7 linked regions of the Homo sapiens genome follow. The protein of the gene in region 1 purifies or fractionates together with the protein of each later gene. This does not show direct contact. Each region holds a gene or a part of one and is shown in the gene's direction. Other genes may lie near its edges. The genes, in order: SH3RF3, RALGPS2, MAP2K4, DENND1A, SH3PXD2A, LPIN3 and SRGAP2.

Region 1 (4,300 bases):
GCCAGGCGTGGTGGCGCACCTGTAGTTTCAACTATTCAGGAGGCTGAGGTGAAAGGATGGCTTGAGCCCAAGAGTTTGAGGCTGCAGTGAGCCGTGATAGCACCCCGCGCTCTAGCCTGCCTGACAGAACGAGATCCTGTCTAAAGCTATGGAAGTAAATATAAATAAATAAAATAATTATCTGGCAGAGCTGTTTAGAGGATTAAATAATATATAGCACGCTCTTGGCCTTTTAGCCTCAACAAATACTACTTTTTTCCTTAATAATAACAGAAAGATCATACAACTTCACAAACCACAAGGACAGGCTGGCCGATAGGCAGGCCCCCCACGACTCTTCTGATGTTAGCCCTGACTGAACTCGCTGTGCAGCGTCCAACCAATCCTGGTTTGTGCTGGGCCCTGGACTGGAACCCAGCCCTTCCCGACGGGAACGCAAAGCGGCCACGAGGGGGCAGCGCACGGCAGGGAATCTTCGCCGCCGACCCCAGCCCACCGCCAAACTTCCCTGCTGCTCTCGGTCCTCCTGTACGTACTTCCGTTGCTCTGACGCTCCCAGAAGCCGGGGCGTCGGGAAGGAGAGCGCGAATTCACCCTCCTCTGCGCCTCCGTAGGAAAAAATTGGAGCGGGGGTTCACGAGACTGCGCCGCGGCGGGCGCTAGAGCCCCTCGCACAGCGTCGCCAAGGGTGCGGCGTGGAGCCGGGCGCCTGGCGCCAGGGTGCTGGTCGGCGGGCAGCGGCGCCAGCCTCCGACCCGCGACTCCGGCGAGCCAAGGCTGCGCCGGGAGGAGTCGGCGCGGGCCCCGGGGTGCCCCCTTCAACTGGAGCGCCTTCCCCTCCTGCCTTGCGGCGCATCCCCACACCTACACCGGAACGAAGCTCCGGGGCTGTCACTTCTGCGCGCTTCTCGGAAAGGAGTCTGAACTGGGAGCGCTCCGGGGGGTCGTCGGGGAGGATGCCCGGGCGTCGGCTGTGTCCCCAAGCTGCTCGCCGGCGCTGGCGAGGAAGGCAGTCGGGATAACGCCGCCCAAACTTTCCTTCGCAGCAGCGTTGGCAGGAAACGTCCCTCTCTGAGGCTCACGAAAAGCCGAAAAAGACTCGGACGCTTGGAGGAGGCAGGGCCAAGCCTGCGCAGGAGAGGTTCCCCGGAGCCCTGGAGATGTCCTAGGGGACCAGGCTAATCGCCGGCTTGCGCCCAAGCGAAGGGAAGTCCTGCAGGCACGGCGCCTCCTTCCCTGAGCCCCGCAGTGACCGTGACCTCCGCGCGCACCCCCGCGCACGTGCTCGCGGCCGAGGAAGAGGAACGGTCCTGCTGAATCCTCTGGAGGACAGCGACTAGCGAGCAGGCCAGGGGCGCATGGAGGTGCCGCGGGGGCGGTGCGGCTCGCCAGCTGCGCGGAGGAGCGTGCACGCCGCGCCCCGGCCTCCCCGGGGACCTGGCCGGCCGCTGCCCGCACTTCCTGCCGCTGGTCTCCCAGGCGCGAGCCGCCGCTTGCAGCACAGAACCCGTTGAGCTTCGTGCCCGGCAGCACCCCCGGTCCCCCGCGCGGGGCGGACTTGCGGCGGGACAGGTGTAGCCCGCAGCCGCAGGCGCTGCGCTCAGGACTGGGCGGGCTCGGCTGGCCGGTCCCCGCCACGCAGGCCGGTCCCCGCCACGCAGGCCGGTCGGTGAGCCACTTCGCACCGCCACAGCCCTAGCATCGGGCCACCAGCCGGGGTGAAGAAAGTCACGGCGGAGCCCGGCTCCCCAGTCCTGATGCTGGCTGCCGGTGGCGGGCTCCACGCCGGCCCCGGGACCTAGGCAGCCGCGCGAGACCGCTGCGGGCGCCTCCCCCATGCTGCTCGGAGCGTCCTGGCTGTGCGCATCCAAGGCGGCCGCCGCTGCTGCGCAGAGCGAGGGCGACGAGGACAGGCCAGGCGAGCGACGGCGGCGTCGGGCGGCGGCCACCGCCGCGGGGGCGGGCGAGGACATGGACGAGTCGTCGCTGCTGGACCTGCTGGAGTGCTCCGTGTGTCTGGAGCGCCTGGACACCACGGCCAAGGTGCTGCCATGCCAACACACTTTCTGCCGCCGCTGCCTGGAGAGCATCGTGTGCTCGCGCCACGAGCTGCGCTGCCCCGAGTGCCGCATCCTGGTGGGCTGCGGCGTGGACGAACTGCCCGCCAACATCTTGCTGGTGCGACTGCTGGACGGCATCCGTCAGCGGCCCCGCGCGGGCACCAGCCCCGGCGGCAGCCCGCCCGCGCGTCCCATCCCAGGCCAGAGTGCGGCCCCCACGCTCGCGGGCGGCGGGGGCGGCGCGGCAGGCAGCACCCCGGGTTCCCCGGTTTTCCTCTCCGCGGCCGCGGGCAGCACCGCCGGCAGTCTGCGGGAGCTGGCGACCAGCAGGACCGCGCCGGCGGCAAAGGTGAGTATCTGTCTCGGCGGAAGTGGCCACGGCACGTGGGAGTGTGTGGGTGGGTGCTTGGGCGTGGGGGGCAGTGATGAGGTGCGGAGGAGACCACGGGTGGTCCTGCGTTGGCCCACTCCGCTGTTGCTCTTCCTCCAACTTCGCTTGCTTGGTGGCGGCATCCGGCCCCTGGGCAGCTCGCCGCTTGTTCACGTGTGTCCCATCCTCCTGTGGAGTGGGCACGCCTTCCTGTCCCGTCGCTCACCCCCGATTCCTTGGCCGGACTTGTTACCCTGCCTCTTAAACTTAGCATCGCCCTTGCGTCTCCCTAGAAACGGGGACCTTCTTCCTCTGGGTCCCCAGACACTCCCTCTGCACACCCTGGGCCTGCCTAGAGAAAAGTTAGCCCTTAACGTTTCTGACAGGGCTCTGATGGCTGCTCTGGGAAGCCCGCGGGCCTCCTGCCTGCGGTGTGGCTAAGGAGGGGAGGGCAGAAGGCAGAGTGGGACTGGGGTTTGGAGGAATGCTTCTAGTAGTCTGGAAGGAGTTAATCTGGAGGCCCCAGGAGCCTTTTGACCCAGCCCTTTTGGACTTGGCAGTGTCTAACCAGAAGCCAAGGTCTTCTCCTGGGCTCCCAGGCAGGGTTGCATTCCCACGGGGGTCATTTATATTTATTATTATTATTTTTGGTACAGCCGCATTTTAGGGCCTTCGCTGCTTCTGTTTTAGACGAAAGATCTTCTCTGGATGGCTTCAATGATTTGGTTTTAAAAGCTTCTTACAGCTTCTTATTACACACCCTTGCCACCTTGTGAACAGTTACCAGGAGAGAGGGCATGGGATGCTGGTTTAAATGAGAAAAGAAAGGACCCGGGTTTTGTTAATTTCTTTAAATGGAGAAAAGCACTTAAATGTTAAAAAAAATACATTATCTATTGGAATAATCATTTGCTTTAGAAACACAACTTTATTCCTCTACTTTTGACCATTTAAGGAGTTGGTGATGCCTAGTCCTTCCACTATGTGTAATCCTGAAATGCTGGGAACATTCTAGCACCTGGATTAGGCAGTACTGCAAATCTCTAAGGTTAAGGTTAGGAACTTAAACCCTTGGATGTTGAGCTTGAGTTAAATGCCATACTTTGCTGCAATGGGTTTTTTTTTCTATGGATCAGGAAGAATGGGGACAGTCAAGGATAGTCACTGGGGGTCACTTGGGGGGCACTGCTGAAGGGGAATTTTTTTCTTTGGTTTTAATTGTGATTAAATCCAGCTAAATGCTTGCGTTAGAAATTTTCAAACTTTTCCTTCCTGGCCTTGCTGTTTTTGATGTAAGGTATTTATAATTAAATATCTTTATTTGCAGAATAAGTGGGTTACCTTCTTCTGTTCTGATAAATTATGTGATATTCGGAGCCCCGCTTCTAGTAAAACGCTGGGACATTCTGATGACCATCTGTTTACAGATGTCCTCTCAGTTTATCTTGGGGGACTTTGTGTTTGACCAGGAGGTTAGGAGGTAACCTCTGACATGTGACAGGCTGAAGCTTTGATGCCACTCCGGGAATTCTGTGGCATTTGTAGTACCTTTTAGAACTTGTCAAAGGGGTTGAAGCTTGGAACTTTTTAGTAGTGACATTTAGTATTAGCAGGAAATTGATGTTTTACTCACCATATGTTGAGACCCTTGGTTGACTTTCTTTATGGGTGCATAGTCATGTTCATGACTTTTTGTGTTTTTGGGATGTTTCTGGATGTTGTTTAATAGACGAGCACTTATTTAACTAATAAGCAGGAGTCCCGCATGGTGTATTCACACTACACTAGCACTATACTACCATGCTGGGATAATAGCATTAGGTCCAGCACATGCTTCGGGAGTGGGAAGGATTGTAATAGCATATCAGGC
Region 2 (3,500 bases), on another chromosome or scaffold:
ACACGAGGCTTAAAATGAAATTATTTTAAAGTATGCTCTAATTATATAGATAGATAGGGCCAGGTTTCCTAAAACATTTTCCCTAAACTGTTCATTTGAGGCTTTTATGGTAAGATCTGAGTATGACAGTTAGGTAAATCTTTTATGTCCTAAATCTTTATATAAAGAGCAGTTTTTAAATTAGTAACAATAATAAAAGATATGAACTTTTTTTTCTGTTTCTAGTTTCATTCATAAAATGAACACAGCAGAATTTAAGAGTGCAACGTTTCCAAATGCAGGACCAAGACATCTGTTAGATGATAGCGTCATGGAGCCCCATGCGCCATCTCGAGGCCAAGCTGAAAGTTCTACTCTTTCTAGTGGAATATCAATAGGTGAGAAATACTTCTCTGAGAGGGTTGCAATTTAACTTTAAATAAAAATGTTAATAAAACTTGGCTGGAAAAAAACCCCACCCACACACAGAGAAAATTTGGTTAAAAAAACAAAGTAGCAGTTAAATATGGGATGAAGTTAATAATTTGTGATGGTTTTAAAAGTGCTTGCTGTTTTTAACTCCAGAAGGGGAAGCATTTGAAGAAGGTGGAAAAAGAACATATGGGCTGGTTGAATTAGTTAACTGCATGTGATTTGGATATGGGGAGGAGGAAGAGTGTGGAGTCAAGAATGACTTCCGGTTATTTGGGTTAAACAAGTATAATAGTTAGATGATGATGCTATTACCAAGGTAGAGAAGACAGAGTAATAATCTGTGGGCAGTGAAGCGTTTGTGAATTTGGGGAATCAGGTGTGTTTTGGACATGTTTAGTCCCTATGGAGATGTCAGGTAGGTTGTTGAATATGTGAATCTGGAGCTCGGGGATAAGGTCAGATCTGAAGATATACGAGAGGTAGCATATTTATAAGCCATGATTGGTTGAGGGTACCTAAAGAGAGAGTGTACATAAATAAAAAAACATTCTCACATTTAGAAGTCTGATTATTTTTTAAAAGAAGGATGAGTCATCAAAGGAAACTAAAAAGGAGAGATCAGTGAAGTAAGGGGAAAAAAACAAAAGCCCAGTAGATGAAGTATCTCAAGGAGGAGGAAAGTACTGAATGTGTGAATATCAAATGCAGAACAAGAGAGCTAAGATGAGAATGGGGAATTGACTGGGGGATTTGGCAAGATAAAAGTCATTGGTGACCTTGATAAGAGTTGCTTCATGGAAGTGTCAGGGCATGGCCTGGATTGGAGTAGATTTGAAAATGAGAGGTGAGGAAACAGAGATAGCTACTGTGAAGGAGAGCAGAAAATAGAGACCATATTAGAAAGGGATGTGAGATTAAGAGAGGGATTTGTTTGTTTTTACTTCCTAAACTTTTAATTTTTGAGTCTTCTAGATGAGCATTATTTCTTGTTACAATTAGAAATTATTCATATAGCCTGGGCAGTGTGGCTCACACCTGTAATCCCAGCACTTTGGGAGGCCCAGATGGGCAGATCTCTTGAGGTCAGGAGTTCAAAATGAGCCTGGCCAACATGGCAAAACCCCATCTCTACTAAAAATACAAAAAGTAGCAGGGCGTGGTGGTGCATGCCTGTAATCCCAGCTACTTAGGAGGCTGAGGCATAGGAATCATTTGAACCCAGGAAACAGAGGTTGCAGCGAGCCATGTTCGCAGCACTGCACTACCCTGCCTGGATCACAGAGCGAGATTCTGTCTCAAAAAAAGAAAGAAATTGTTCATATAATAGCTACTTTTATTTTTAAAAAGAAATAAAGGAGGAATATGTCTTCATCTATGATTAACTACCAGATTGTTCAAGGACTAAGCCTATTGTTACTAATATCTTAATATTGGTAAACAGCCAGTAGAAGGAGATGCAAAAGGAGATTGATTTTCTGGAACATACTGACTTTCTTAGCCCTTGAGAGTTAAAATTAAATTATTTCAGAGCTCTCCATTACCATTCAGTAGTTGTTTATTCTGATAGTCCCCTTTTTATATAAAAATACAAGTGATTAAATGATAAAATGTTTTAAAAAGAAGGCAAGTTTGTCACCTGAAATACCTCTTATCAATGTTCTAAGTTGCCTATATGCAAATACTAATCTCAGTATGAAGAATAATTTTGCAAAAGAAAGAACTTTTTTTCAGTCAAAAATTTTCTACACGTCCATGGAATTTGGCATGCCACTTAAAGCAAAAAGTTTTTAAAATTACAGCTCTCAAGTATATAATATTTTACTCTTTCTCATAAGTGTTATAATGAGAATTATTCTGTAGTTTATAGCTTTTACTTTTCATGGATGTCCTTTTGGCTACCAAAAGATTATTGTTTAGTTATTTTATTGAGTTACAGTTAGTGTCTCAGTGTGGAGACTTTTCTCTTTTAGAGCAGATTTTTGCATTTGTGTTTATTTTTTAATTATTCTAAGGCTAAGTAAGTAAACAGTAAAAGATCATTGCATCCTAGTTTGTAAACTAAGAACATTACACATAGGCATTTACCTTCGAGGATTTTTGTTTTAAAGCTTTAACAATATGAAAAAAAGAATAAGTCTATTACCATAAGATGATAGGTGTTAATATACACACACGAGTTTTTCCCTCAGCTTTAACTTTTACATGCAATATTAATCTACAGTGAAGGCTTTGAAAATACTGTGGGAAAATTAACCAGTGCTTAGAACAATGGCCTTAAACATTTTCTAATGTGGTATCTATCCTAGATAATCTTGAGTAGTCTCACCTAGCTAACTAAGAGAAGCATATTCACTCTGAGCTTCATGCTTACATTTTCTACAAATAAGTTATCCTAATTATGCTTAAATTTTCAGTCTTTACCACATAGTGCCACAAATCAAAGGATAATGTAGATAATGTACAAGACCCCACCACCACCACGGGTTACCTCTGGTTCTTCTGAACCATACAATACAGAAAATTATTTCAGTGATTGTTATCTCAGTTTATCCAAGGATGGTACATAACTAGTGCCATTGCAAACCCGTAGAAGGGTATTAATCCATCGTCTCTAAGAGAGACGAGTCTAATGGATACCTTACAGCATCCATTACAGGTGTCTGATGGATACCTTACAGCATTAGAATTTGAGTCTCTCAGAACCCTGCCCGTAAAAAAGAGTTTGAGTCTCTCTTCTTAGAACCCTGTCTGATAGACAATTTAACTTGACCTATTAATCATCCTAATTTTTTTGAGAGCCAGAATTACCTTTAAAGTAACATTTAAGTAAACTAAGCTGTTTTGGACTCTCTAAATTCATTCCCCATAGTTTTTTTGTTGGTTTTTTTTCCCCCTAGCTAATTGTAAACGTTCTGTTTGAAGACCATTTTATTTTAACTGATCTTTTGGCCAAAGAGAAAATTGTTGCATTTTTATAGCACCGGTTTTTGGTTTTTTAAATTTAGAGATTCCATCTTCTTTGTCTCTAGAGACAAATAAGTGGATTTCATTAGGCTTTTTATACTTAGGGTAGTAATGGACTTTAA
Region 3 (3,500 bases), on another chromosome or scaffold:
CTTAAGGATAAATTGATAAAAATGTATATGTAATTTATCTCCCAGAATTACTTGATTGCTGGTTTCTCTTGGGTAGTATCTGCATAAATATCTGTCTACTTATTTATTTACATTTAGAAAAGCATATATGTACACAAATAATTTTATACTTATAAAACATTTATATATTTAACTGTAGTATTCTGTGTAGCTATGCCATAATTTAGTCAATTTTCAAGAATTAATATTTTTTCTAATTTTTAACTAATCATCCTACACTGACTATCCTAGAGATAAATCTTCAGATTATAGACTCACAATTTTTTGTATGTGCTTTTACTGTGTTTAGCAGGCTGTCTGCGTTGTTACTTTGGATCTGAAGGAAAGAACTATTTCATTATTTGTAATATTTCATCTGTGAAAAGAAAAATACTTAGGCAAATGAATCTACATTTTAATAATGTTATTTTTATGTTATTTTAGCCTTACGAAGGATGAATCCAAAAGGCCAAAGTATAAAGAGCTTCTGGTGAGTGTGGGACTGTGGGGATTGTAGGTACATCCTAACCCCGGAACTCTCTTAACATGCTGGTTCACTAAGCAAGCAGTGGGCCTCTCTGTCATAAACAAACATCTCAAATTTATTGAGTGTTTTTTGTTAATGTTTTTACACAAAGATTTGGAAAGAGAAAATTTGCAGTTATAATTTTTCTACTAATACTAGCTAAATTCTCATGGAAAATTTTGGTCTTAACATGTTATAAAAATTACCCCCAAAGAATTCTGACTTTAAGAAGCCATTTTCCACTGCATAGTCTATTTATATGGGATGCAGCCATAAGAAAAAAATTAGTGAAAATTTGTGTTTATTCTGCCTTTATAAAATTCATGCAAATTTACGTCATATAGCCTATTCCCATTTCTTTGAAAGTTCTCATTCATCCCATGGAACTTGGGTGTTTTAAGCAGTCTACTGGGTATGGCATTGGTGGGGCAGGGAGAAAGTGTTGTGATCTAATAATGTGGGAATATTTTAAGAAAAGATCCATTTGTTTGTCACATTTAACTACTAGCTCTTCAAGGATGTTGTGACAAACTTATATCACAGTCCACCAATGACTGTAAAAATATCTAGTCAACATACTTAGTCTGTAAAAGAAAACTGTTGCTAGAGATGGAGTTTTAAAAGGTGGGTTAGTGAAGCAGATACTGGGACCCTGGCTCTGGAGAGTACAGGGAAGAAGCTCCTGGGGCAAATTTCTCTTGGGCCTCTTTTGGTCAAAAGAATTACAGCCTTTTTGTTAAAAGGTCAAAAGAAGAGGTCAAAAGGATTGCGACCTTTTTGTAAAAAGGTCCTCCTGTTGTATATAGGAGAAATGGAGGTTGAGATTTATATTGGTGTCCCAAGAGGAATAGTGACTGGCATTTGCGTCATTCTTCTTAGCTCTTAGATGGTGTGGTGGAGGCTCCAGCTATGTTTTGTGCTGAGTGACAACTTGGCTGTCTTCCTCAACAAACACTCCCTGGTATACAGATGAGTTTCCAGACCTCACTGCCAAGGTGGCACCTTCAGATCATTACCACGTATCCTCTCTCTAGGCATGCCCATGCCCATTAGCATATCTGCATGGAATAAAGGCTGTACTCGCCTCTCTGAACTTGTAGTGTTGCGGTATTTCATAGCTATGTGTGGTTGGGAGCCTGGAGTTCTATGTTCTATAGAAATTGGAAAATGTTCAGTTTGGGCTGTCATACAAACTTTTGACTTTTTTGTTTTCAATTTTCTTGCAGAAACATCCCTTTATTTTGATGTATGAAGAACGTGCCGTTGAGGTCGCATGCTATGTTTGTAAAATCCTGGATCAAATGCCAGCTACTCCCAGCTCTCCCATGTATGTCGATTGATATCGCTGCTACATCAGACTCTAGAAAAAAGGGCTGAGAGGAAGCAAGACGTAAAGAATTTTCATCCCGTATCACAGTGTTTTTATTGCTCGCCCAGACACCATGTGCAATAAGATTGGTGTTCGTTTCCATCATGTCTGTATACTCCTGTCACCTAGAACGTGCATCCTTGTAATACCTGATTGATCACACAGTGTTAGTGCTGGTCAGAGAGACCTCATCCTGCTCTTTTGTGATGAACATATTCATGAAATGTGGAAGTCAGTACGATCAAGTTGTTGACTGTGATTAGATCACATCTTAAATTCATTTCTAGACTCAAAACCTGGAGATGCAGCTACTGGAATGGTGTTTTGTCAGACTTCCAAATCCTGGAAGGACACAGTGATGAATGTACTATGTCTGAACATAGAAACTCGGGCTTGAGTGAGAAGAGCTTGCACAGCCAACGAGACACATTGCCTTCTGGAGCTGGGAGACAAAGGAGGAATTTACTTTCTTCACCAAGTGCAATAGATTACTGATGTGATATTCTGTTGCTTTACAGTTACAGTTGATGTTTGGGGATCGATGTGCTCAGCCAAATTTCCTGTTTGAAATATCATGTTAAATTAGAATGAATTTATCTTTACCAAAAACCATGTTGCGTTCAAAGAGGTGAACATTAAAATATAGAGACAGGACAGAATGTGTTCTTTTCTCCTTTACCAGTCCTATTTTTCAATGGGAAGACTCAGGAGTCTGCCACTTGTCAAAGAAGGTGCTGATCCTAAGAATTTTTCATTCTCAGAATTCGGTGTGCTGCCAACTTGATGTTCCACCTGCCACAAACCACCAGGACTGAAAGAAGAAAACAGTACAGAAGGCAAAGTTTACAGATGTTTTTAATTCTAGTATTTTATCTGGAACAACTTGTAGCAGCTATATATTTCCCCTTGGTCCCAAGCCTGATACTTTAGCCATCATAACTCACTAACAGGGAGAAGTAGCTAGTAGCAATGTGCCTTGATTGATTAGATAAAGATTTCTAGTAGGCAGCAAAAGACCAAATCTCAGTTGTTTGCTTCTTGCCATCACTGGTCCAGGTCTTCAGTTTCCGAATCTCTTTCCCTTCCCCTGTGGTCTATTGTCGCTATGTGACTTGCGCTTAATCCAATATTTTGCCTTTTTTCTATATCAAAAAACCTTTACAGTTAGCAGGGATGTTCCTTACCAAGGATTTTTAGCCCCAAATCTCTCATATTCGCTAGTGTTTAAAAGGCTAAGAATAGTGGGGCCCAGCCGATGTGGTAGGTGATAAAGAGGCATCTTTTCTAGAGACACATTGGACCAGATGAGGATCCGAAACGGCAGCCTTTACGTTCATCACCTGCTAGAACCTCTCGTAGTCCATCACCATTTCTTGGCATTGGAATTCTACTGGAAAAAAATACAAAAAGCAAAACAAAACCCTCAGCACTGTTACAAGAGGCCATTTAAGTATCTTGTGCTTCTTCACTTACCCATTAGCCAGGTTCTCATTAGGTTTTGCTTGGGCCTCCCTGGCACTGAACCTTAGGCTTTGTATGACAGTGAAGCAGCACTGTGAGTGGTTCAAGCACACTGGAATATAAAAC
Region 4 (3,500 bases), on another chromosome or scaffold:
GAGCAGTGTTGGCTTATGATAGCTCTGCTCCAGTTTGTTTAAAGGATCCCATTGCCAAAATACACAAAAAGTTTGCTTTTTCTTGAGGCCTGTTGTATAGCACAACTAACGTATCTCTCTGCTTTGTGATGAGACCAAGAATTGGAATGTGACTTCCTTCCAGGCCTTCTTCCTCTAATGCCTATTCCCCTCTTCCCTTTCTCCGCCACAGTGCTGTCCTCCCTGTCCCCAAAGGAGAATGTAGAGAGACTTGGAGTGGTGGAATAAAAGTCTCTTTGAAGACCAAGCTCTCCATCGTTAGTGCTCAGAGTCAGCCACTTGAATTTTCATGACTTTTCTGGAAAACATGTTGGTGCTACTCCATCACTCTTTTCTTAGCCATTGTAGTCAACTTAGAGGGCATTGTACAGCAGATAGGAAGGTTGAAACAGAAGGTAAGACCTGGAGTATTGCTCTAGGAAAGTATGTTTGCATTGAGTTATTAAATCTGTGTAAGTTCCTGGCTGGAGTTCCGGTTGCAGTTGCAAAGGTCCAGCCTTTTTCCTGGCCCTAGGGAGAGCTAATCTCTGGGTTCGTAACATCCTTTTTGCTTAAAGGGGCTTTGTAGGGACATGGAAAGATAAACAAGGAAGAAAAATAAACAAAATGAAGTTGTTTTGTTCTCTACTTTTATTGGAATCCGTACCCATTCTTTCCGAGTATTCAGGACTTGAAAAGGAGCCAAATAAAGTAAGAAAAGATATGTTAAAATACATATATGTTCCTATAGAAAAGAGAGGTGACATTCCAAAAGTTCATTTGGACGTTGGTTATGACATTTAGAATGTGTTTCCCTCTTCAAGATACTGTTATGTACAAATCAGTAACTGTTGAGGGCAAGGGCATTCCAGATATAGGGAACTGTGTATGCAAAAGTCATGGGGAGATAAAAGGTAAAGCTGAAATACAGGATATAAGGATAAAGATTACAGGAGAGGAAGTTGATGAAGTAGGCATGTGCCAGTGGGATATGATGCCATTGAAGGGTTGAACTGGGGATGTACTATGATCAGATTTGGGTTTTTAGGTAGATTACCCTGGCAGCAGCAGTTTAGAACAGTGATATCTCTGGCTTTTACAAGATGACGCATTGGAACGTGAGAATATGTTAGAAATTGTATTTATTTTTATATCAACCTTCAAAGTTTGTATTTTTTAATGTATGTGTTAGTATAGTAAGGCATTATTATAATTTATGGATATTTATCAGATGTATGCTCACTTTTTTACTGATAGGAAGAATGCATGGAAAAAAATGGGAGGCCACTGGATTGTGGAACTGTGTAAATAGTTTTTACTGCTGAAGATCAAGGTCCAGAGCAAGGTTTTGGCAGTGTAAAGAAAAGGAATGACAGGCCGGGCGTGGTGGCTCATGCCTGTAATGCCAGCACTTTGGGAGGCCAAGGAGGGTGGATGGCTTGAGTCCAGGAAGTTGAGACCAGCATGGGCAACATGATGAAACTCTGTCTTTACAAAAAAATACAACAATTAGCCAGGTGTGGTGGCATGTATCTGTGGTCCCAGCTACTTGGGAGGCTGAGGTGGGAGGATCACTTGAGCTCCCACAGAGCTCAGGAGACGGAGGTTGCAGTGAGTCAAGATCACGCCACTGCATTCCAGCCTGGGTGACAGAGTGAGACCCTGTCTCAAAAAGAAAAAAGAAAAAAAAAAAAAAGGATGGCTTTGAGAGATTTTAAGTAGAAATGACAAGACTTGGTGACAAATTACACGTAAGAGGCAAAAGAAGAATCAAAGATGACTTGCCAAGGTTAGCAGAGTTATGTTACAAATGGAGTATTTGTGAGGTGAGGACTGGTTATATGTTTGCTTTTCTGAGGAAAAGTGAAAAGTTATAATTGGGATAAGGCATTTTAGTCTGCATTGAGAATGGAAGGAATCTTTGAGGGATCCATAGTGAATGTGTGTGCTTTATTGAATGAGTAAGACTTGAAGTGGGCTGGACTAAATTGCTGAAGGCAAATCTGTTCATGGTAGATTTAGAGAGGGGGAAAAGAAAAACCACCTTTTGAATTCACTTTAGCCACAGGAAAGGTTTGAGGGTGTTGCATTGATCTCGCATAGGCTGTATGAATAAATGGAAGGAAGGAAACCAATCTAGAGAAGATACTGTTTGACTCCACGCTGGCAGTTCTTGAACTCCGGGGTGTGAGAGGAGCCAGGGGTATGTGAGCATTGGAGTACTGAGTTCCCAGAACTATACATTCTCCCTCTGAGTTCTAAATTTCTGAGCTTCAGGTTAAAAAAATAATATTTATGGAAGGAAGCTAATAAATTAACCTACAGGGTTGTTGTGATAATTAAAAGAGATATTGTGCCTAGTTCTCAGTGGAGATATGACTGCTTATTAAATGGCAGCTATCATTAATATTGCTTGGAGAGGAGAAAACACAGTTGTCTGAACAACCTGGAGTTAAAAAACAAGTTAAAAAACAGCAAGTATGTTCCTTTTTATAGTATTACAGTTTTTTTTGGTTTTGTTTTTAAAAACCAAAGTATTTGCTTCCTTTCAGTAAGAATGTTAGGATGACGTGTAGTGTATTTCACTGAATTTGTTTGAAAGATTGAGATGCTGATATATACAAAGCACTATTGCTCTTGCTGGTTGGGAAGAAAGGAAGCCTATAGTCTACTAAGACAGGTAAGATGAGCGTGCAAACAATTAGAATTATAACATTTAAGAACACTTATGTCCCCAGCCAGGCCCGGTAGCTCACACCTGTAATCTCATCACTTTGGGAGGCTGAAGCAGGCAGATCATTTGAAGTCAGGAGTTCGAGATCAGTTGGGCCAACATGGCAAAACCCCATCTCTACTAAAAAAAAAAAAAAAAATTACAAAAATTAGCTGGGCATGGTGGCGCATGCCTGTAATCCCAGCTACTTGGGAGGCTGAGGTGTGAGAACTGCTTGAACCCGGGAAGGGGAGGTTGCAGTGAGCTGAGATTGCACCACTGTACTCTAGCTTGGGCAACAGAGCAAGACCCTGTCTTGAAGTAAAAAAACCACTTAATGTTCCCTTTATCATAAATATTGGAAATCTATTCAGTTTTATAAAAGATTTATACAAATAATTTATATTTATCTCTGTTTAACTGGTACTACTTTTCAGTCTTTTTAAAGTGTTTTTTTTGTGTGTGTGTGACAGAGCCTTGCTCTTGTCGCCCAGGCTGGAGTGCAGTGGCACGATCTTGGTTCACTGCAATTACTACCTCCTGGATTCAAGCTTCCTCTGCTTCAGCCTCCTGAGTAGCTGGGATTACAGGCACCTGCCACCATGTCCGGCTAATTTTTCGTACTTTTAGTAGAGACGGATTTCTCCAGTTTGGCCAGGCTGGTCTCAAACTCCTGACCTCAGGTGATCCGCCCGCCTCGGCCTCCCGAAGTGCTGGGATTACAGGCTTGAGCCACCATGCCCGGCCTTAAAGTGATTTTTTATTCTTT
Region 5 (3,500 bases), on another chromosome or scaffold:
CCTCACCTCCCGGACGGGGCGGCTGGCCGGGCAGGGGGCTGACCCCCCCACCTCCCTCCCGGACGGGGCGGCTGGCCGGGCAGAGGGGCTCCTCACCTCCCAGTAGGGGCGGCTGGGCAGAGGCGCCCCTCACCTCCCGGACAGGGCGGCTGGCCTGGCGGGGGCTGACCCCCACCTCCCTCCCGGACGGGGTGGCTGCTGGGCGGAGACGCTCCTCACTTCCCAGACGGGGCAGCTGCCGGTCGGAGGGGCTCCTCACTTCTCAGACGGGGCGGCTGCCGGGCGGAGGGGCTCCTCACTTCTCAGACGGGGCGGTTGCCAGGCGGAGAGTCTCCTCACTTCCCAGACGGGGCGGCTGGGCAGAGAGGCTCCTCACCTCCCAGACGGGGTCGCGGCCGGGGAGAGGCGCTCCTCACATCCCAGACGGGGCGGCAGGGCAGAGGCACTCCCCACATCTCAGACGATGGGCGGCTGGGCAGAGACGCTCCTCACTTCCTAGATGGGATGGCGGCCGGGAAGAGGCGCTCCTCACTTCCTAGATGGGATGGCGGCCGGGCAGAGACGCTCCTCACTTTCCAGACTGAGCAGCCAGGCAGAGGGGCTCCTCACATCCCAGACGATGGGCGGCCAGGCAGAGACGCTCCTCACTTCCCAGACGGGGTGGCGGCCGGGCAGAGGCTGCACTCTCCGCACTTTGGGAGGCCAAGGCAGGCGGCTGGGAGGTGGAGGTTGTAGGGAGCCGAGATCACGCCGCTGCACTCCAGCCTGGGCACCATTGAGCACTGAGTGAACGAGACTCCGTCTGCAATCCCGGCACCTCGGGAGGCCGAGGCTGGCGGATCACTCGCGGTTAGGAGCTGGAGACCAGCCCGGCCAACACAGCGAAACCCCGTCTCCACCAAAAAAACACGAAAACCAGTCAGGCATGGCGGCGCGCGCCTGCAATCGCAGGCACTCGGCAGGCTGAGGCAGGAGAATCAGGCAGGGAGGTTGCAGTGAGCAGAGATGGCAGCAGTACAGTCCAGCTTCGGCTCGGCATCCGAGGGAGACCGTGGAAAGAGAGGGAGAGGGAGACCGTGGGGAGAGGGAGAGGGAAGGGGAGGGGGAGGGGGAGAGCTTTTTTTTTTTTTTTTTTTTTTTTTTTAGCAAATTCTTCCAGATCCTGAGAGAGCCCATCTCTACCAAAAAAAAAAAAAAAAATTAACCAGGTGTGGTGGTGTGTGCCTGTAGTCCCAGCTACTGGGGAGGCTGAAGTGGGAGGATCACTTGAGCCCAGGAGATGGAGGCTGCAGTGAGCTCTGATTACTCCACTGCACTCTAGCCTGGGTCCCAAAGCAAGACCCTATCTCAGAGTAATGATGATGATGATGATGATGATGATGATGATGATGATGATGATAGTAATAGTAATGTGAGAATTTTGATAGCTCAGACAAGTCTTCCGTGAGTCCTGAGTATTATTAGAAAGCCTCATCAGAGTAGTCCCCTGGCGATATATACCCTGAGACTCCCATGATAGATACGTACTCAGGCCAGCTGCTGTCCAGCTGGTGTAAACGGCCATCCGCACCCCCTGGGGACTGAGTGGGGACCAACCCTTGGCCAAGTTACTCTTCTGATTTAGGCGGGTTTTGCCCACTGTGTGTTCCTTAACCTTAGGGGTTCCAACTGCCAAAGCCACCAGAGCCCCCTTCTGTTGAGGTGGAGTACTACACCATTGCCGAATTCCAGTCGTGCATTTCCGATGGCATCAGCTTTCGGGGTGGACAGAAGGCAGAGGTAAGCCTTGGGCCATGAGGCCGAGGGTTTTAACTCATTGTGGTGGAAAACCTACTGCATTTCCCATTTTAGGCCTTGCTAGTAAGATTCCTGAGGGGCAGGCAGGCAGGAAAGGTACAGAAATGAGCCCCACAAAGATGAGCATCTGCCTGGCGCTGGCCAGTGCCATGGCCTAAACTAGATCCCAGCTCTCACGCTCCACCCTGAGCTCACAGGGCTTGTCTCACAACATTTCCCAGAGCATGTGCAGGAGCTTGTGACAGGGGGGCCTTGAAACAAAGGGCTTCTTTGGTCAAATGAGCTTGCAGGACAGTGGATTAAACAAAATCCAACCCATTTGTTGTTTTAATTGCAGGGCTTCCCAGAGCCTAGGATACAAGGATGTCACTGGGAGTGTCACCTACAAGGGGTCTAGAATAGACAGCATTGCCCAACCCCACAAGCTTTCTCTCCCAGGAACATCTCAGGGCCAGGATCCTGCAGAAGCCACATCAGGAAGTGTTGTTAGGAGGATGTGGACCAGGCAGGTAGACTGAGATACTGGGGACCTGGGCTCTGGCCAAGTCCACACCACATGACCCCTGGCCTTTGATGCAGTCACTTCTCTCACCCGCCACCCCCAACTTTAAGCATTTCTCTCTGCAAAACAGGGTGATAGATCCTGGGACGCCCCTCCACCCCCCAGCATGTCTTCCAGCATTCATGCCACTCTATTTTGTGGCTGGGGCTGAGCATGGTATTCCCGGCAGCAGAGAAGAGCTGTAACTTAGTCAATTCTCTGAGTGGCTTTGTGTAGTAATTGAGTTAACTCCATCTAATACAAGTGAACCTGTCAGACTCATTGGGCAGTCTCTGCCTCTAAAGCAGTGACATTCCCAATGTGAATGTTTTAAATCACATGCCTGGAACTTGCAACTAAATTTCCAAGAAAAATCATTCTCTCTGTACTGAGGTTTCCAGGAGAGTCTGTAAAGAGCATAATGTGGCAGAACTGTCAGGCTCAGGAGCCACCTGTGCTTGAACTGTAGGTACAGGGCTGGGGCAGGGTGAAGGACAGAATGTAGGACCCAAAGAAGGAGAAAATCTTTCTCTTCTAGTGGGGGATGCAGAGGACTGGTCTCTTCTTGCCTTTGCATTCTTCACCTTTCCCTCCCTCCTTGGCCCTCTTCCCATAGTGCCAGTGTTTTCACGCTACCCCTTCCCCACCCCAGGACCTTTTCCTCCAGGAGTGTCCCACAATCCCCAGTTATCTGCCCTTTATGTTCCCCAGTCCAAATGGACCCCAGCACAACCAGCAGCCACACTTTTGGCCATTGGTTGATCTCCAGAAGTTAAGGAAGAAGCTCCTTAAACCAGTTTATACTAACATGGAAATGACTGAAAGCCCCCTGCCCTTCCTACAGGAAACCAATCAACCCAAAGAAATCTCTTCAGCTAGTGGGATTTCAGTGGGATTCCAGTAAGATGACCACAGCGGGTGGATCCTGGGGAAAGGCTCTGCAGAGAGGCTCTGGCCTCGGGCCTGTACCTCCCAGGTCACTTCATCTGCATCTTCCCATACTCTTCTGACCCTAGAGACCCTTTCAAGGAACTCAAAGGGAGGACCTAGCAACATCGAGGGTACGAGGAGGGAAGGGGCAGCAGAAGGGCAGTGTTTTCTTCATACGTGTCCTTAGTCTACTGGCAGGATTGTAGGGACTGGGAACAGTGCAGTTTAGGGG
Region 6 (3,500 bases), on another chromosome or scaffold:
AGGCCAAGGTGGGAGGATCACTTGAGTCCAGGAGTTTGAGACCAACGTGGGCAACATAGTGAGACCCTGTCTCTACAAAAGAAATTTAAAAGTTAGCCAGTTATGGTGGTACATGCCTGTAGTCCCAGCTACTCAGGAGGCTGAGGCAGGAGGATCACTAGAGCCTGGGAGGTTGAGGCCGCAGTGAGTCATTTTGGTGCCACTGCACACCAGCCTGGGTAACAGAGTGAGATCCTGTCTCAAAAAAAAAAAAGAAAAGAAAAGAAAAGAAAAATATGCAGATGCTGATTCAGTAGGGCTGAGTTGGGCCTAAGTTTCTGTTTCTAACAAGCTCCCAGGTGATGCTGATGCTGATGTTTGTTGCTGGTGCATACCACATTTTGAGTGCAGGGCATTGCAGGGCTGTGCAGAAGTGGCCATGGGCCATGCAACCAACTCTTGGGTGGTTTGGAAGCATGGAGTGGAAGGAGACCATGCTCTAGAGTCAGGAGAGCTGGATATGAGTCTTTACTCCCTCTCTCCCCTCCCTATACCCCTTCTATGGCCTGTCAGCTTAGAAGAGCTTGAATAGTTTCCTCACCTGTAAAGTCACTTAACCTTGGGTAAGTCACTTAGCTTCTTTGCTAAGTGGTCTTGCATGGCAGGCTGTCCTCCAGGGGTTCTGACCCAGGGTCTGAGAGAAGAAAGTGCTCTGTAGAGATAGGACAGTCTGGGTCTTGGCAGGCAGAGGGGCAGCAGGCCACTGGCCTGGCCAGGAGGGCAGGGGTGATCACCTGAAGCTGCTGGGGCAGGCACTGTGCCAGCTTGGAGGAGGCTCTCATCATAGCCCTGTTTTTTCTCTGAGGCCGCCTCAGCCTCCTGCTTTGGGCTTACCCAGGCCTGTCTGGTGTGGGAAAGCTGGAGAGACCGGTCTGGCTGGGGGAGGGAGCAGCTTCAGTGGGCTGAGGCCAGCCCAAGGCCTGATTGTGGGTCTGAGCGCCTAGCCAGCTCAGCCCTGGTCTGAGGAGCTGGGGTTAGGGTTGAAATTGGGGTCTGAGAACTATAGCCTGGACACCGCTGGGGTCAGGCTGTGCATGGACAGGCTTCCCACCAGGGAAACTGGGAAGGAATTTGTAGTTTGGGGCCTTAAGCCCCCAGCTATAGGGGATGCTCTGCCTTGAGCATCTGACCCCAGGAATGGGGCTGAACAGAGCCTTGAGTACCTGGGGTGCTCCCACCCTTGGTCCCCCATAAGTCAGCTACAATCGCCCAGCAAGACACCTTCCAACTCACAGGACCAGCAGATAGCAAGACAGCTGAGCCCATTTCTCAGATGGAAAAGTGGAGGCTCCTTCGTTCCCACTTCTTGGGAAAAGAAGAGTACTCATTAGCACAGTCACCCATTATCCAGCAGGGCCCTGGGCCTGCTATCTAATGAGGCTGCCCCCTCTTCCCACCCCCTCCGTTTTCACAGTTGGACCATCCCAGTGGAACCACACAAACCTGGGTTCAGATCTCAGGTTCCCTCCTTCATAGTTATGAGGCTCTGGGCAGGTCACTCCACCTCTCTGAGCCTCTGCTGGCTCATCTGTAAACAGGAATAATGACACCCGCTCAGCCAGCCCCACAGGGTTGTTGTGAAGATGAAATGAGCCGTACCCACGGAACACTGTGGTCATTATCATTAGTCATGGCATTTAGAGGCACGAGGCAACTGGGTATTGTTTTACCTTGTGCCCTATTTTACAGATGTGGACATCGGCACTTGGGGAAGGAGGCGGCTGCCCAAGGGTCCCTTAGCAGGGCAGTGGGCAAGCTGGGGTTAGACCCACATCTACAGGTGTACCTCCCATCGCACAGCTGCTGCCATCTGTGCAAAGGCACTCCAAGGCGTGACACAAATGTAAACTTGGGGGTCTGTGTGGTCAGGCTGCAGGAGCTTCTTGTGGAGGAGCTGGAGCAGACCTTTGTGCAAGCCACTGCCTTTCTTTGCCAGCACCAGCCATGAACTACGTGGGGCAGCTGGCGGAGACGGTGTTTGGGACGGTGAAGGAGCTGTACCGGGGCCTGAACCCAGCCACACTGAGCGGCGGCATTGACGTGCTGGTGGTGAAGCAGGTGGACGGCTCGTTCCGGTGCTCACCCTTCCACGTGCGTTTTGGCAAGCTGGGCGTCCTGCGGTCGCGGGAGAAGGTGGTGAGTGCTCAGGCTGGCTGAGGTGGCTACTGCAGAGTGGGCTTTTTAAGCTGGGGCAGCCACTACAGTCCCAGGACAGGACCTGGGGCCTCCCTTAGGTGGGGATCTGTCCTCTGGACAGGCTTCCCTTCATTTGTACTTTCTTTGAAGGTTTTTGGGTTGATTTGGGGGTTTTGGTCTGGGAGGGTTCACAGTTAGTTTCTCATGGAAACAGACCAGTAGGGCTCATCCCAGTGCTGGGGCCGTCAGACCTGGCTCAGCTTACTAAGACCTTACCTGTGTGTTCTTGGTAAGTCACTTCATGCCTCTGAGCCCAGTTACTTCACCTGCACAAATGGATATGATTTTATCGGCCTAATGATGCTGGTGGGACAAGTCAATAGCAACTGATAATACTGTCTCAGGGCCAGCTATGTGGGAAACACTCAAATGTTAGTTTCTCTCTCTTAATAAATCCACTTCAGGCTGGGCATGGTGGCTCACGCCTATAATCCCAGCACTTTGGGAGGCCGACGCTGGTGGATCACCTGAGGTCAGGAGTTTGAGACCAGCCTGGCCCACATGGTGAAACCCAGTCTCTACCAAAAATAGAAAAATTAGCCGGGTGTGGTGGTGGGCACCTGTAATCCCAGCCACTCCGGAGGCTGAGGCAGGAGAATCGCTTGAATCCAGGAGGCAGAGATTGCAGTGAGCCAAGATTGTGCCATTGCACTCTAGCCTGGGCGACAAGAGCGAAACTCCGTCTCAAAAAATAAATAAATAAATAAAAATAAATAAATAAATCCATTCCACCTTCACAGGGCTCAGGCAAGCACAGCAGAGATTTTTGTTAGCAGCAAGGTCTAGGGTGTGAATCAAGATTCACACTGAGGCAACTGTGACGTTTCCAGGATCCTAATAGAAAAGTGTAGCCTATGGGAAATAGTATATCTAAGAGGCTAGTAGCTTGGGTTGTAGACTCAGCCTTTTTGGCTTCATAAGCTCACTTGCTGTGAGGCTGCCTCCTAACCAATTACTCAAACCCCCAAAGCCTCAGTTTCCTCATCTGTAAAGTGGAGGTAATGATAGGAGCTACTGCAAGGGGTTGCAGAGATTAAATGAGATAATCTATAGAAAACACTCCACAAAGGGCCAGTACACTAAAATTCCCACCATTGTTTATGCAGCCAATAACCTGGGGGCTGGGGACACAGCGATCACAAGAGAGACCACGTCCCTATTCTTATGGATGTGAGAGACAGAGGGAAGAACTTGGAAACCAGGCAATACACAAGAAGACCGAGACAGTGACAAGTACAATGAGGCTCAGACAGTGGGGCAGTGTG
Region 7 (3,198 bases), on another chromosome or scaffold:
ACATCTGCCCCCTCCCACTTATCCTAGCTTCCTTGGAGCCAGGGCTCCCTGATCACACTGCCCTTTCTGTTTGTGATTGAAGGCAAAGGAAGCGTCCAGAATCTGGGAGCATCCGGAAAACTTTTCGGAGTGACAGCCATGGGCTGAGCAGTTCCCTGACTGACTCCTCCTCCCCAGGGGTGGGGGCTAGCTGCCGCCCATCCTCCCAGCCCATCATGAGCCAGAGCCTCCCCAAAGAAGGGCCAGATAAGTGTTCCATCAGTGGGCACGGGAGCCTCAACTCCATCAGCCGCCACTCATCCCTGAAGAATCGGCTGGATAGTCCACAGATCCGGAAGACTGCCACAGCGGGAAGGTCAAAAAGCTTCAATAACCATCGGCCCATGGACCCTGAGGTCATTGCTCAGGTAACTGTGGGCTCCTGGACAGACAGCATGAGTCTACATTCATCACTACCACTTAGTGCCACCCACCTAATTATGACAGGACTTGAAACAGAATGATTATTTTGTATGTGATATACTGAGTATATGTCCACTCTGGACATGTGGACCCAATAAGACAGCTTAATAAGTGGTCTGCCTGTCCCTCTCTCCCCAGGAAGAACCTAAAGACAGAATAAAAGAAGCCTAGCTTCTTGCTCATACACTGGCTATTAGGAAGGCTGTTGTAATTTTTAAAGCCGGTATTAAGAGTATTTTGAAAGCCCAAGTTTTGAGTCTAAAGACCTTGGTAGACTTTAGTGAAACTGCCCGACTGTTGAGGATCAGGTGTAATCCTGGCCACATGTTTATATTGCTGTGCCCATCACCATCATCCCGATTCCTAAGGCTAGTCTCTGGTACCGAATGGGTAGATGATCAATTAAGAACCTGCACCTGGTTTTAAAGACCTAAAAAATACTCTGGCTGCAGAGAGCTCTGGTAACCAAAAGGATTTGCAGCCCAAGCCTCCAGAGGCTATGGAGATGAGCTCCCTGGTTGCAGGGTCTTCCTTCTGTGTATGCACCGCACTGATGACTCTCTGTTTTCCATGAAATATTAGAGATCCAACCCCACCTCTAAAAATCCGACTACCGGGGCCACTCCAAGCAGTTCACTCAGACGTCTCTCCCAACTATATAATTTTCATTAGACCAGGTAGGAACTAAGGGCTTATTGTTGCCTTCTTATCTCAACTGAGTTGAGATTCTCCTTACCCCATCTTCCAGGGGGTGATAGAGGCTGGGCATGGTCTCTCTTGGCTTAATTGTGGTTCTCTGCTTACGGAGATGTACCTGGCAAGCCCAGTATTGAGCTACAGGCCTGAGATGTCTTGCTTTGCTAGCCTTCTATTCTGTGCCTCTATTTAAGCTCTTGGCTGCAATCTGCCTTGCGCTACGGGAATCCTCCCAGCTCCCTCCTTGGCCAGGTGTTAATAGGAATGTCAGGAAAGGTAGACAGCTGGGACAGACTAGCTGTAGAGTGCGACTGAGGAGGGAGATGGAGTTCTTCCTGAGCATTTTAAAGGTTTGAGAATGTCATAGGGATGAGTGAAACTGAATCACTGTGAACAGAAAGCATGCATCGGTCTGTACGACAAAGAAACCTTAACCAAAGGCCTTCGCTTGGAATGTGTAAAATCTTTCCATGTGAACCTAATCCCAAGAAGAAATCCTGTGGTAGTTTGGGGGTGCCAGACACAGGTTTATGGGGAGGGAGCGGGGAGCTGGGAAGTCTCACTGGAAGGCAGCTGGCTTGCATACAAAGGTTCTTTGGTTCTGCCTTGAGTCCCTGGGCTAGGACTGCTGTTGGCTAAAGATCTAGAGTGTTCCATTGATTTGCAGGCAATTGATTCACCTATGTGGGCTTTGGCTCCCCTTCCTGGTCATTCTTTTGTCCCCTTGGTGGTGATGGCTGGAAGGAAATGGTTTCAAATTGGACACTGCCCTGAGTTGGGGAGGAGGGGCGGGGGGAGGCGTATTGGGCTCCTGAAACTTTCCTCAGCCCCTGAGGAGGAAGGACTAACCCTCTTCACCTTTGGCCTTGAAGTCCAAGAGAATAAAGATCATACATCATCTCTACCACTTTTTAAAAAAGTGTTTATTATGTACAATTTCAAACCTACCCAAAAGCAGACAGAACTGGATAACAAATCCCCATGTACTCATCACCAAACTCCTGGCCATTCTTACTTTGTCCGTGTTTCTCTTCCCCACTAGATTATATGTCACTTCGTCGATAAGTATTTCAATATCTATCTCTAAAACCTAGGGTCTCTAAAAAAATATCAATTACTTTTTCTAAAGGAAAAAAAAAAATCTCATGACAGTGAAAATCCCTCCGTCCCCCTTTCCCTACTTCCTGAGCATTCATATGTTCAAAGATTTAGGCCAAGTACAATAATCTGGACATCTTACGGTCATTTTCTTCATGCCTTGGCCTGTGTTGTTGAAACCGGCTCCTTGGGGAATTCTCCCCTCATTTGCCTCACCTCCTCCTTTTTCCTGTTTTGCAGGATATTGAGGCAACAATGAACTCGGCCCTGAATGAGCTACGGGAACTAGAACGGCAGAGCAGTGTCAAACACACCCCTGACGTGGTTCTGGACACCTTGGAGCCCCTCAAAACCTCCCCAGTGGTGGCCCCCACGTCAGAGCCCTCCAGCCCTCTGCACACCCAGCTCCTCAAGGACCCCGAGCCCGCCTTCCAGCGCAGCGCCAGTACTGCTGGGGACATCGCCTGCGCCTTCCGGCCTGTCAAGTCTGTCAAGATGGCTGCCCCGGTCAAACCACCAGCCACACGGCCCAAGCCCACTGTCTTCCCCAAAACAAATGCCACTAGCCCTGGTGTCAACTCATCAACTTCCCCACAGTCTACTGACAAGTCTTGTACTGTCTGAGGGATAATAATTTAATTGTTCTAGACAAGGGGACTATAGGGACTGACTGTTATTAAAATCTTCCTATTTAACTAGCTTGGGGACTTCAGTTGAAAATTAGGTTCTAAGTTGTTCTTGCAGGAATTAGCCTCCCCGTCTCCCAAAACCTTGAGAATGAAGCCCTTGGTATCGCCTCTCCCTTCCCACTGCCCTCTGCTTCCCCCAGTCGTCGTAATTCAGCCAGCTGCAGTCCGTACCGTTCTTAGGTTAGCCAGAGACAGGTTTTCATTATCAGGTCACTGTGAAATCTGGTAAGGCAGTCCTGAGGACATGGGCTCA

What was found.
Region 2: the proteins of SH3RF3 (region 1) and RALGPS2 purify together in Homo sapiens (affinity purification with mass spectrometry, with the first as the bait; one large-scale study listed by BioGRID). This does not show direct contact.
Region 3: the proteins of SH3RF3 (region 1) and MAP2K4 purify together in Homo sapiens (affinity purification with western blotting, with the first as the bait; one study listed by BioGRID). This does not show direct contact.
Region 4: the proteins of SH3RF3 (region 1) and DENND1A purify together in Homo sapiens (affinity purification with mass spectrometry, with the first as the bait; one large-scale study listed by BioGRID). This does not show direct contact.
Region 5: the proteins of SH3RF3 (region 1) and SH3PXD2A purify together in Homo sapiens (affinity purification with mass spectrometry, with the first as the bait; one large-scale study listed by BioGRID). This does not show direct contact.
Region 6: the proteins of SH3RF3 (region 1) and LPIN3 purify together in Homo sapiens (affinity purification with mass spectrometry, with the first as the bait; one large-scale study listed by BioGRID). This does not show direct contact.
Region 7: the proteins of SH3RF3 (region 1) and SRGAP2 purify together in Homo sapiens (affinity purification with mass spectrometry, with the first as the bait; one large-scale study listed by BioGRID). This does not show direct contact.

Annotation. Positions count from the first base shown.
Region 1 is NC_000002.12:109,127,705-109,132,004, forward strand, and holds the start of SH3RF3 (E3 ubiquitin-protein ligase SH3RF3), read left to right. Parts: upstream 1-1,500; 5' UTR 1,501-1,836; coding exon 1,837-2,409; exon of another isoform or gene 2,410-2,415; intron 2,416-4,300. UniProt on the Homo sapiens protein: Has E3 ubiquitin-protein ligase activity.
Region 2 is NC_000001.11:178,885,744-178,889,243, forward strand, and holds part of RALGPS2 (ras-specific guanine nucleotide-releasing factor RalGPS2), read left to right. Parts: intron 1-225; coding exon 226-377; intron 378-3,500. UniProt on the Homo sapiens protein: Guanine nucleotide exchange factor for the small GTPase RALA. May be involved in cytoskeletal organization. May also be involved in the stimulation of transcription in a Ras-independent fashion.
Region 3 is NC_000017.11:12,139,377-12,142,876, forward strand, and holds part of MAP2K4 (dual specificity mitogen-activated protein kinase kinase 4), read left to right. Parts: intron 1-462; coding exon 463-508; intron 509-1,770; coding exon 1,771-1,884; 3' UTR 1,885-3,500. UniProt on the Homo sapiens protein: Dual specificity protein kinase which acts as an essential component of the MAP kinase signal transduction pathway. Essential component of the stress-activated protein kinase/c-Jun N-terminal kinase (SAP/JNK) signaling pathway.
Region 4 is NC_000009.12:123,920,127-123,923,626, reverse strand, and holds part of DENND1A (DENN domain-containing protein 1A), read left to right. Parts: intron 1-3,500. UniProt on the Homo sapiens protein: Guanine nucleotide exchange factor (GEF) regulating clathrin-mediated endocytosis through RAB35 activation. Promotes the exchange of GDP to GTP, converting inactive GDP-bound RAB35 into its active GTP-bound form.
Region 5 is NC_000010.11:103,604,077-103,607,576, reverse strand, and holds part of SH3PXD2A (SH3 and PX domain-containing protein 2A), read left to right. Parts: intron 1-1,659; coding exon 1,660-1,779; intron 1,780-3,500. UniProt on the Homo sapiens protein: Adapter protein involved in invadopodia and podosome formation, extracellular matrix degradation and invasiveness of some cancer cells. Binds matrix metalloproteinases (ADAMs), NADPH oxidases (NOXs) and phosphoinositides.
Region 6 is NC_000020.11:41,343,821-41,347,320, forward strand, and holds part of LPIN3 (phosphatidate phosphatase LPIN3), read left to right. Parts: intron 1-1,975; 5' UTR 1,976-1,983; coding exon 1,984-2,175; intron 2,176-3,500. UniProt on the Homo sapiens protein: Magnesium-dependent phosphatidate phosphatase enzyme which catalyzes the conversion of phosphatidic acid to diacylglycerol during triglyceride, phosphatidylcholine and phosphatidylethanolamine biosynthesis therefore regulates fatty acid metabolism.
Region 7 is NC_000001.11:206,458,541-206,461,738, forward strand, and holds part of SRGAP2 (SLIT-ROBO Rho GTPase-activating protein 2), read left to right. Parts: intron 1-82; coding exon 83-407; intron 408-1,044; coding exon of another isoform or gene 1,045-1,134; exon of another isoform or gene 1,135-1,139; intron 1,140-2,496; coding exon 2,497-2,880; 3' UTR 2,881-3,198. UniProt on the Homo sapiens protein: Postsynaptic RAC1 GTPase activating protein (GAP) that plays a key role in neuronal morphogenesis and migration mainly during development of the cerebral cortex. Regulates excitatory and inhibitory synapse maturation and density in cortical pyramidal neurons.